Linked DNA regions of Homo sapiens. The protein of the gene in region 2 purifies or fractionates together with the protein of the main gene of each other region. This does not show direct contact. Each region holds a gene or a part of one and is shown on either strand. Other genes may lie near its edges.

The links.
Region 1: the proteins of EIF3J (region 2) and EIF4G1 purify together in Homo sapiens (affinity purification with western blotting; 3 studies listed by BioGRID and IntAct, with this or other methods). This does not show direct contact.
Region 3: the proteins of EIF3J (region 2) and KSR1 purify together in Homo sapiens (co-immunoprecipitation; one large-scale study listed by IntAct). This does not show direct contact.

The regions. Positions count from the first base shown.
Region 1 is NC_000003.12:184,317,489-184,321,137, forward strand, and holds part of EIF4G1 (eukaryotic translation initiation factor 4 gamma 1), read left to right. Parts: coding exon 1-9; intron 10-228; coding exon 229-328; intron 329-2,200; coding exon 2,201-2,313; intron 2,314-2,774; exon of another isoform or gene 2,775-3,141; coding exon 3,142-3,234; intron 3,235-3,438; coding exon 3,439-3,505; intron 3,506-3,649.
Region 2 is NC_000015.10:44,557,647-44,561,295, forward strand, and holds part of EIF3J (eukaryotic translation initiation factor 3 subunit J), read left to right. Parts: coding exon 1-4; intron 5-2,602; coding exon 2,603-2,676; intron 2,677-3,371; coding exon 3,372-3,503; 3' UTR 3,504-3,649. UniProt on the Homo sapiens protein: Component of the eukaryotic translation initiation factor 3 (eIF-3) complex, which is required for several steps in the initiation of protein synthesis.
Region 3 is NC_000017.11:27,620,362-27,623,754, forward strand, and holds part of KSR1 (kinase suppressor of Ras 1), read left to right. Parts: intron 1-831; coding exon 832-912; intron 913-1,567; coding exon of another isoform or gene 1,568-1,574; exon of another isoform or gene 1,575-2,952; coding exon 2,953-3,031; 3' UTR 3,032-3,393.

The DNA.
Region 1 (3,649 bases), on a different chromosome or scaffold from region 2:
CCTGGACAGGTGAGGCTGGGGGCTTGGAGCCTAGAAGCCACAGACCCCTATACCTCTCACTTAACTCACCCTGACCCTCCAGTTCCATTGCTTTTCCAGAGGTGGGACTTCCTTCTGGTCATTGCCCAGAGTTGGCTTGTCTTGTCTTGACCTATGTTCTTTTTGGAGTCTGATATGGAACTCATAGCTCCCTCAACTCCTTCTCTCCCTCTCCCCCTTCCCCACCAGGGGCGTTCCACATACGTTGTCCCGACACAGCAGTACCCTGTGCAGCCAGGAGCCCCAGGCTTCTATCCAGGTGCAAGCCCTACAGAATTTGGGACCTACGGTAAGCAGGGGAGGGAGTCAGAGGTGAGAACAAGCCCAAGGGAGCATCTAAACTCATCTGCTGATTTCTAAAGCAGAAGACCCTTCCCAGGCTTGGCTTCTGGTCTAAAAATGATAAGGTTAATAGGTGGTAGGGATTGGTGCTTAATATTTAACTGGTGTTGATTGTGGGGAGAAAATTTGATTTTATTGCCAGGAGAGTTAAGAGTCTTTCCCACATCAGGGAATGTAGGATCAGGCACCAGCCTGAGAGCCTATTAGTAGGCTTTCCCTGTGACACTTCTTCCATGGTTGGGAGCCCATGTAATGCAAATTTGGGAGGTTTTTGTAGCTATTTTTTATTTATGTTCTAGGGAAGGATTAGTCTGTTCTTTATGGCAGTGGCTTCCAAGTTTTTTGATCACCTATCAGGAAAAGTTTTGAGTATGAATCTCTCATACATGTATGTTTTTGTTTATATGTATGCAAAATTTAAACAAATACACTTGTGCTTGTCAAAAACAAGTGGAATTTAGGGATGAAATTAAAGAATGTGCCCGGATCTTGCTTGTAATCCCAGCACTTTGGGAGTCAGGAGGACTGCTTAAGGCCAGGAGTTTGAGACCAGCCTGGGAAACTTAGTGAGACCCTGTCTCTATTTTAAAATTTGAGGGGGGCTGAGCACGGTGGCTCACGCCTGTAGTCCCAGCACTTTGGGAGGCCAAGACAGGCGGATCACTTGAGGTCAGGTGTTCGAGACCAGCCTGGCCAACATAGTGAAGCTCCGTCTCTACTAAATTTTATTGTTATTATTTTAATTTTCTTTTTGAGACGGAGTCTCGCTCTGTCACCCAGGCTGGAATGTAGTCGCACAGTCTTGGCTCTCTGCAGCCTCCGCCTCTTGGGTTCAAGTGATTCTCCTGCCTCAGCCTCCCGAGTAGCTGGGATTACAGGCGTGTGCCACCACACCCAGCTAATTTTTGTGTTTTTAGTAGAGATGGTGTTTCATCATGTTGACCAGGCTGGTCTCGAACTCCTGGCCTCAAGTGATCCACCTGCCTCAGCCTCCCAAAGTGCTGAGATTATAGGCGTGAGCCACCACGCCTGGCCCTGTCTCAACTAAAAATACAAAAATTAGGCCTGGTGATGCACTCTTGTAATCCCAGCTATTCGGGAGGCTGAGGCAGGAGGATCGCTTGAACCCGGGATGTGGAGATTGCAGTGAACCAAGATTGTGCCACTGTATTCCAGCCTGGGCAATAGAGTGAGACTCCATCTCAAAAAAAAAAAAAAATTAAGGGGAAAAAAGAACTCACCCACTTTGGAGATAGTTTGCTTTAAGGAATTAATTTTTCTTCATCTTGAGCCTAGTTCATAATGTTACTTTGTTTCTTTGCCCCTTTGTAAAGGGCTGGAGACAGGAACTAGACTCAAGTTAAATGGAACAGGGTTGGCAGATCTCTTTCTCTCATTACCAGCCAAAGACCTGGTTCTGTTTCAGGTTCAGAGTATGTGTGTACATGTTGATAGCGGGTGGGGTACACACACGAGAGTAACTTGTACGGTGGAAGGACAGACATAAGTCCTCCTGGTCACTGGTGTGTGGTAGGAAAGAGTGCCTGCCTACGAGGGGTGTGTGTGTGTGTGTGTGTGTGTGTGTGTGTGTGTGTGTTTGTGTGTGTGTGTGTGTTAGGAATTCTTGTAAACGCAGTTCAGACTGGTTCCCCAGCTTTGACAGACACCTAATTCCCTGGGGGAGGAGGGCAGGGCAGGGCAAGGCAAGGGGCCGGCTGTGGGTGGTGAGAGGTTTTGGGGTGGGAGGTGTCAGGCAGGCATTAGTATATGGTTGGGCCCTGACGCTACCACCATTCTTCTCCGTCCCCCCTCCCCCAAGCTGGCGCCTACTATCCAGCCCAAGGGGTGCAGCAGTTTCCCACTGGCGTGGCCCCCACCCCAGTTTTGATGAACCAGCCACCCCAGATTGCTCCCAAGAGGGAGCGTAAGACGGTGAGTAGCAGTGAGGGGCTCCGGGACATCTGGGAAGGGGAGAATCAAGGTCAGGTGCTGCTGGGACATTGTGCCGGAAAGAGCAGTGACTTGAGGAGGAAGGAGCTGAGAGTGGGCAGAGAATGGTGTCTGTGGAGGGCTCAGGTTCTTTGTAAGATGCTAAGATTTCAGCATAGAAGCAGGTCATGGGAAGACTGAAGTGCCTAGCGAGGAAGTTCCTGCGAGACCTGGGTGCTGGGGGGTTGGAAGAACTATGCTTGGTTTTGGGTTTCTAGTGGCTTGCCTTGGAAATGGTTTGTTTTCTGTGGCCCCAGCCCCCATTCCCCCCTGCCCCCCCAGTCCTGGAAGCTCTCAAGGCCTCCGCCTCTGCTCAGTCCTCAAGCCCTGGGCGTGGTGCCCAGAATAGGGTGCCAGAGCTGGGGAAGCCGCTGAGTCACCCTGGCTCCACCTACTGGATCTGGGCCCTGCCCCCAGAGATCAGGCACACTAGCCACAAGTGAGCCGATTGGGTTCTAGATGGGGGTCCTGGGCCCCAGGGTGTGCAGCCACTGACTTGGGGACTGCTGGTGGGGTAGGGATGAGGGAGGGAGGGGCATTGTGATGTACAGGGCTGCTCTGTGAGATCAAGGGTCTCTTAAGGGTGGGAGCTGGGGCAGGGACTACGAGAGCAGCCAGATGGGCTGAAAGTGGAACTCAAGGGGTTTCTGGCACCTACCTACCTGCTTCCCGCTGGGGGGTGGGGAGTTGGCCCAGAGTCTTAAGATTGGGGCAGGGTGGAGAGGTGGGCTCTTCCTGCTTCCCACTCATCTTATAGCTTTCTTTCCCCAGATCCGAATTCGAGATCCAAACCAAGGAGGAAAGGATATCACAGAGGAGATCATGTCTGGGGCCCGCACTGCCTCCACACCCACCCCTCCCCAGGTACTGTCTGCTTTTCGAGTGATACCCTGGCTGGGATGTCTGTTCTGCCCTGGACTCCCAAGTCCCTGGATCTTTTCTTTCAACTAAGGGATTTATTTCCCTGCTTTCCTGGATTTCTAGGCAGAGCTAAAGTAGAAATGGCTCTAGTAAAGAAGGGTTGTGGGACTCTTCAGTGCAAACTTGGTAACCCTTTGTGTCCTGCAGACGGGAGGCGGTCTGGAGCCTCAAGCTAATGGGGAGACGCCCCAGGTTGCTGTCATTGTCCGGCCAGGTAAGTAAGCCGGTGGGACGGAGCTTTTATGGGGAAAGGGAATGTTAACAGTTAAATGCTGAGGTGGTGGAGTGACTTGAACTGGGTACCAGAGAATGATGACTTAGATTTCAGGTTGTGGGATTTTGAGGGTGAATTGGGTTT
Region 2 (3,649 bases):
TCATGTAAGTAATTCTAATTTCTAGCCCCTCTGGGTAGATTTTTAGTAGGATGTTCTCTTCAGGAGGTTGAAGGTTATTTTTTATTTTCAAGGATACTATAATACAGACTCATGATTTGCTGTTTTTAGCAATTACCTTGTGAATGTTGTTCTGCAGATACAGTGAATTTGAGTGCTGGATCTTTTTGTTTGTTTGTAGGGGTAAGAGGACTTCTTGTTTTACAATGGCTTCCCTAAGAGATACCTGGGCTTGTCAGCAAAGCAGCTAATAAAACACTGGCCTATTCTTTTTATCTGATTATCACTTGAGAGGGGCTGGGAAGTATCTTTTGAGGGAAAAGGTCTCTGGCACTGTAGGATTTGGGTTGGGTGAGACTTCAGCCACTGTCTTTTACAAATCAGAATTAGACAGGGTGCAAGTTGAGTGACAGGGCTGGCACCTATTCTCTGGGTCCGTGGTTGTGGTGCCACACCTTGATAGGAGTCATACATTTCAGGGCAGGGTGAATGGGAGTGACAGCCATGGGTGGTGAAGCAGGAATGTATGGAAGGGACTGGTTTTGCTAGTATTTGCAGTTTTTTTGTTGTTGTTGTTTTTGTGATGGAGTCTTGCATTGCAGAGGCACGATCTCAGCTCACTGCAACTTCTGCCTCCTGGGTTAAAGCAATTCTCCTGGTCTGGCGCAGTGGCTCATGCCTGTAATCCCAGCACTTTGGGAGGCCAAAACAGGCGGATCACGAGGTCAGGAGATTGTAGACCATCCTGGCTAACAAGGTGAAGCTGAGGCAGGAGAATGGCATGAACCTGGGAGGCAAAGCTTGCAGTGAGCTGAGATCGTGCCACCGCACTCCAGCCTGGGTGACCAAGTGAGACTCCGTCTCAAAAAAAAAAAAGCAATTCTCCTGCTCAGACTCCTGAGTAGCTGGGATTACAGGCGCCTGCCACCACGCCCGGCTAATTTTTTGTATTTTTAGTAGAGACGGGGTTTCACCATGTTGGCCAGGCTGCTCTGGAACTCCTGATCTCAGGTGATCTCCCTGCCTTGGCCTCCCAAAGTACTGGGATTATAGGTGTGAGCCACCACGCCCAGCCTATTTGCAGTTTTTAAGATGGAGAAAAAGGAATCCTACACAATGAATTGGGTTTTCTTTGATAAATTATCACTAAGCTGAGGGTTCTACATTTGATTGGTAATGTGCCCAGAGTTGATATTTTATTCTGCATGTACTAATTTTTTTCTGGTTTTTGGAGGTGTTCTCTAACCAAAACTGAACACTTTCTGGTAGCTAAAAACTGGTGTCTCTTTCCAGCTTCATATTTTTATAAGGCTGATAATGCTGTCCACTGAACAGGACTATTTCTTGGTAGGACATAGAGATGGTCACTGTTCTCATTGTAGTTCCCGTGCAAGAAAATGGAGACATCATGGGATAGGGTGTTGTCATTGTAGGTTTAAGAATTGTCATTCTGGCCGGGCGTGGTGGCTCATGCCTGTAATCCCAGCACTTTGGGAGGCTGAGGCTGGTAGATCACCTGAGGTCAGGAGTTTGAGACTAACCTTGCCAACATGGTAAAACCTCATCTCTATTAAAAAAAAAAAAAAAAAACACAAAAATCAGCTGGGCATGGTGGCACGCACCTGTAATCCCAGCTACTCGGGAGGCTGAGGCAGGACAATCACTTGAATCTGGGAGGTGGAGGCTGTGGTGAGCCGAGATCACGCCACTGTACCCCAGCCTGGTGACAAAGCGAGACTCTGTCTCAAAAAAAAAAATAAAATAGGCCGGGTGCGGTGGCTCACACCTGTAACCCCAGCACTTTGGGAGGCCGAGGCAGGCGGATCACGTCAGGAGATCAAGAGCATCCTGGCTAACACAGTGAAACCCCGTCTCTACTAAAAATACAAAAAATTAGCTGGGCATGGTGGCGGGCGCCTGTAGTCCCAGCTACTCGGGAGGCTGAGGCAGGAAAATGGTGTGAACCCGGGAGGCGCAGGTTGCAGTGAGCCGAGATCGCGTCACTGCACTCCAACCTGGGTGACAGAGTGAGACTCCATCTCAAAAAAAAAAAAAAATAATAGTAATTGTCATTTCATGTTTATTTGTCTGTTCTCCCTGATTACTGGGGGTGTGTTAATGGAAGGGCATGTTATCCTCCCCCATTTGTTTAGACTGAGGAAGGATAGTAGGGAGCATTGTGAGCTATAAAGACAGTTTCTCTTTGGTTGAGCAATGGTGTGTTGGTGATTACAGGTCGTCATTATAAATAAAATGAATTTTGTTTTCAAGAGACAGGGTCTAGCTGTGTTGCCCAAGCTGGTCTCGAATTCCTGGGCTTAAGTGATCCACCCACCTAGGCCTCCCAAAATGCTGGGATTACAGGCATGTGCCACTGTGCCCGGCCACCTTACGTTTAAAGAGGAGAAATTCATGGTCCTTTCAAAGTTACTGAAGTTTAACAATGAACAAATTGGATTTCTCATAACACTTTTGGAATGTACATTTTGGGATATATAGATATATATGGAATGTACATATTTAGCTTTAACTTTTCAAAATGCTTAAAAATTCAAGTTTAATGGTATGCCCTTTTTTTTTTAAGTGGAAATTGATGACTTGAAAAAAATTACCAATTCACTGACTGTGCTTTGCAGTGAAAAACAGAAGCAAGAAAAGGTAAGAGCAAGCTGTGTAGGGAAATGGGTATTAAATTAGAGTGGGGTTATAGGTCTAACAGTCAACAAATATAATAGGAGCCTGTCCTAATTAAAAGTCAAGCAACTCACTAATACCATTTAAGTTAGACTAGAAGAGGAGTATGGGTGCTATTACTGTCCTTTTGTTTCCAGACATGTTCCCCTTTTCTGAGTTAATAGAAATTGCTGAAATCACAGACTGGGTTCAAATACTAGCACTGCTACTTAATAGGTATAGGTAAATCAGCTTTTCTAAGCTTCAGTCTTCTCCCTTCTAAAATAGGAACAATAATACTCACTTTGCAGAGTATTTATAAGAGTAAAGTAAGAGAAGTATGTCAAGTAAAGGTTAGAGCTTTGTGATTTTAAATTGGGGGGTACTTATCCACACTTTTCTAAATTTGCTTCAGTGAAGTTAAGGCTGTCTACCAATAACTTATAACCCCTGCTGGTGGGCTAGGTATCCAGAGCAGGACCAAGGACCCAGATCAAGTTTTGGAGAGACTGACTCTGGGAGACCTGTTCAGGTCCAAAACATGTAGGCTCGGATGTCCCTTACAGAACTAGTGTTTCTGGGACCAAAGGTTTTTGTGTGTTTGTTTATGAGGGTTGCTGTACCAGATAAGATGCCCATAGCACACTAAGGTTCATGAATTAACTCTCTTTCATCTTTAGCAAAGCAAAGCCAAAAAGAAGAAGAAAGGTGTGGTTCCTGGAGGGGGATTAAAAGCCACCATGAAAGATGATCTGGCAGATTATGGTGGTTATGATGGAGGATATGTACAAGACTATGAAGACTTCATGTGACATTTTATCTTTTCTTGGTGTCATCTTTATGTTGCCCACAATCCCTTGAACATGTAGCACAACTTCCTTTCCTTTCAGTTCTGCCAAATGCTACAATCAGAAGTGCAGTATCTTTTGTGCTGGTTATTTAACCCCTTGACACTTAG
Region 3 (3,393 bases), on a different chromosome or scaffold from region 2:
GATTGCAGTGTCCTAAAGACAAACAGACACACTGTAATGAAACCTGCACACATCAGGACTCTTTCTTGTCACCTTTGTATTCCTGGCTCCTAGTACAGTCCCAGGAACATTATAGTTGGGCACTAAATATTTAATGTGCATGAATGAATGTGAGCAAAGGGTGATACCATGCCAAGTGCTGTGATAAAGCCCAGATGGGGGCCTCTGCATCCACCTGGGGGACAGGAGGAAGAGTCTCTGGAAGAAGGTCGTCAGGGCTGGGTTTTGAGCCAGAACTATCCCAGCAGAGACCAGGAGCATGGGGCTCTTAGCAGTTCAAGGAGGGTGATGTGAGGCAGCGAGGCCAAGCTCTAATCAGACCGTGGGCAACTTGCTTAACAAGCTGGGCCCTGGTTTTCTCCGTGACGAAAGAAAAGGCTCCACTAGGTGGACACTGGCATTCAGAACATCATTCCAGATTCCCCAAAAACCATATAGTCCCACCTTCTCATTTCACAGGCAGGAAACTGAGTCACAGATGGGGCTGTTCCCTGCCCAGCCCCTTCGAGGAAAGCATGCGGGCTTTCCTTTCCTGAATGAGTCTGTGTCAAAGCTTCCTGTTCACAGTGTTTACTTTCTACACGCTTGCCCCCTAATTCTCACTTTCTCTTTTCTTTCCATTGATCTTGTCACTTTTTTATTTTCGGGGGGTGGCGGATGTGCTGTTCTGTCATCTCCCACTTTCCCATCACCTGATTCCTCCACCTGTCCACACGTGCCTGACTCCATCACATGCCGGGGCCGGACTGCGCTCTTCCCACGCCTGGTGGAATGGTCGCTGGGCACTCCCAGTCGCTGGAGGAGCCGCTACTATGGAAAAGGACGCTACGGCCACCCTGACTTTAAGAGCTCCTGTCCGATTCTGGAGGAATAGTGTGTTCCTGTTACTTCCTTCGCTGGCTGCCTGTCTCTGGTTTTCCTGACACAAGCCCTGCTTCCTTTCTGTCGCCGCTTCCCAGCTTCTCCCATCTTTGTGTCATTTATTCTCGCAAACCAAAGTGAGGTTTCTGCAGCTGAAATGGCTTCCAGCAAGGGTCACACAGGCTTGCATTTTTCGCTGGGTGAGAGAAGAGCCACAGCATGTGGCGGGGCCTTTGTCCACACCATGAGTGAATGGGTGGCTTGTCCCTGGGTCGGAGAAAATTCTGGTCATTGATTTGAGCCCCCAGGATCCCAGTCCCCCTGGCCAGAGCTCAAGAGAAGAGAATCCAGTTAAGCAGAAATACTCTTGGAAGTAGATTTTACTCGTCAAGGGCTAAGGAGCTGTGGGCATGTTCCATCCTCTTTATAAACGTGCTGCAACTGTGCCCTGCGGGAGCTTAGAGAGGGTTCTTTGTGCCCAGGATCCCTTCTGAGCATGCAGTGCAGCCAAGCCTGGGGGATGGAGTCCAGGATGGCCCTTTCTCTCTGGAAGAGAAAGGGAGTCCCCTGCCCAGCTGCTCTGGCCAGACCTCTAGCTCCCGACAGGCTCTGCATTGGGGCTATGATTCTGATGCTGTTCTTTGCTTTCTTCTCTTTCCCTCTGTAGGTTGTAGGCCTGGCTGCCTTGCATGCACCAGGGGCTTTCTTCCTCCTAATCAACAACTCAGCACCGTGACTTCTGCTAAAATGCAAAATGAGATGCGGGCACTAACCCAGGGGATGCCACCTCTGCTGCTCCAGTCGTCTCTCTCGAGGCTACTTCTTTTGCTTTGTTTTAAAAACTGGCCCTCTGCCCTCTCCACGTGGCCTGCATATGCCCAAGTAACTGCTCTCAGAGGATCCCACTAACTGAGCTCCCTCCAAGGCAGTCTGGGCAGCTTCTAACTACCTTCCTGGACATGACTGATTGCTCCCGTGTTCTTCTGAGGGCTGGTCTTGTTTTTGTTTGGGTGGCTCTGTCTCACTGCTAACACCTTAGTGAGATGCCTTCCACCCTCCTGAGCACACCAGCCTCCCACTGGGTGTGTGCCTAGTGCGGGGCGGGCGGAGGTTGGGAGGGTGTTGGCTTGGCTTTTAACCTGTGGGGATTTTGTCCAACAAGGAGTGGAATGATTTCAGAGCTGCCCTGAGGCTGGCACCCTGGTCACAGGAACCCTCTGCGCTGGCTCCTGTCTCAGTCCCCTCTGTAGAGTTAGATCAGAAGACACAGAAAGTTCTGTGGCCATGAAAGATACCAGCTTGGAAGGGTTGTGTCTTCAGTGGCACCCTCAGAAAAATTGTCTTAAAGCAAAGAGGTACCTGGCTCCAGACAATTTTTCTGATGAAAACAAAGTCTCTGCCCCGTCCCCACCCTGCCACCCTGGCAAAGTTACTTCCTTTACAGCTGCCCAGTGTACCATAGACCAGACCCCAGGTCAGCATTTGTCAAGAGCATGGCTGCTGAGTCCCCTGTGGCAGTCAATGCACTGTTTACCAAATGCAGGTTTCTGTTCTCCCTCCCCAGCAAGACCTGCTGAACCCAGATCTCTGGAATGGGGCCCTAGGAATTTGCATTTCAACCTGCTTCCCAGGTGGCCCTGATGCACCCCAGTATTAGAGTTTATTGCTAAAAGGAACATGCCCTGTCACTCCTGGTATCCTGGGAGTCATGTTTCTCTTCTCTCTCAGTTCTACTTGGAGCAAGAGCTTTCCTGGGCTGCAAATGAGAAAACAATTCCTAGGAACCCACAGCAGTACTGAGCATGCTGGGAGCTTGGGACTTGGAGATGAATGAGCCACCGTTGCTGCTCCAAGTAGGACTACTTGGAGTGTAGCTGAGGCCTTGGACGCAGTATGACCAGGGGCAGCTCTGCCAGGGCTGTTGGCCAATCAGTCATTTTCATTTCTTGTTGGAGGCCAGGTCCTCTGCTGAACTCATTTCCTAGCTAGTGTTACCCTAATTCTGATGAAGATCAATGGGGCTATAATTCTTGTTTTTGTTCCTCTTTGCAGCATTAACAGCAGCAAAGTTGTACCCCGGTTTGAAAGGTTTGGCTTGGGCGTCCTGGAGTCCAGTAATCCAAAGATGTAGCCAGCCATATGGTTTTTCGCTGCTGATCTCTTTCTTTTTAAAATGTGTTTCTGAAACATCCCAACAACCACCACGACAAAAAAACACTGCCTGCCCAGCGCTGCAAACCAGGAGCACACGTCCTAGATTCAGACTGTTGGCCATAAACCCCACTCGGGAGATGGAGCTGCACCTGCTATTTCTTAAAATGACACCACCAACAACCAAACCTGTCATGACAGACAGCAAATGTTTACACGTATATTTCTCCTGAGTGAACCTGATGTTTTACAATAGGTAATAATAAAAACAGTCTGTGCAGATGCACTGGCACTGACGGCCAGGATGGCGGAAATGGCCATCCCCTCTGAGGACCTTGTAGG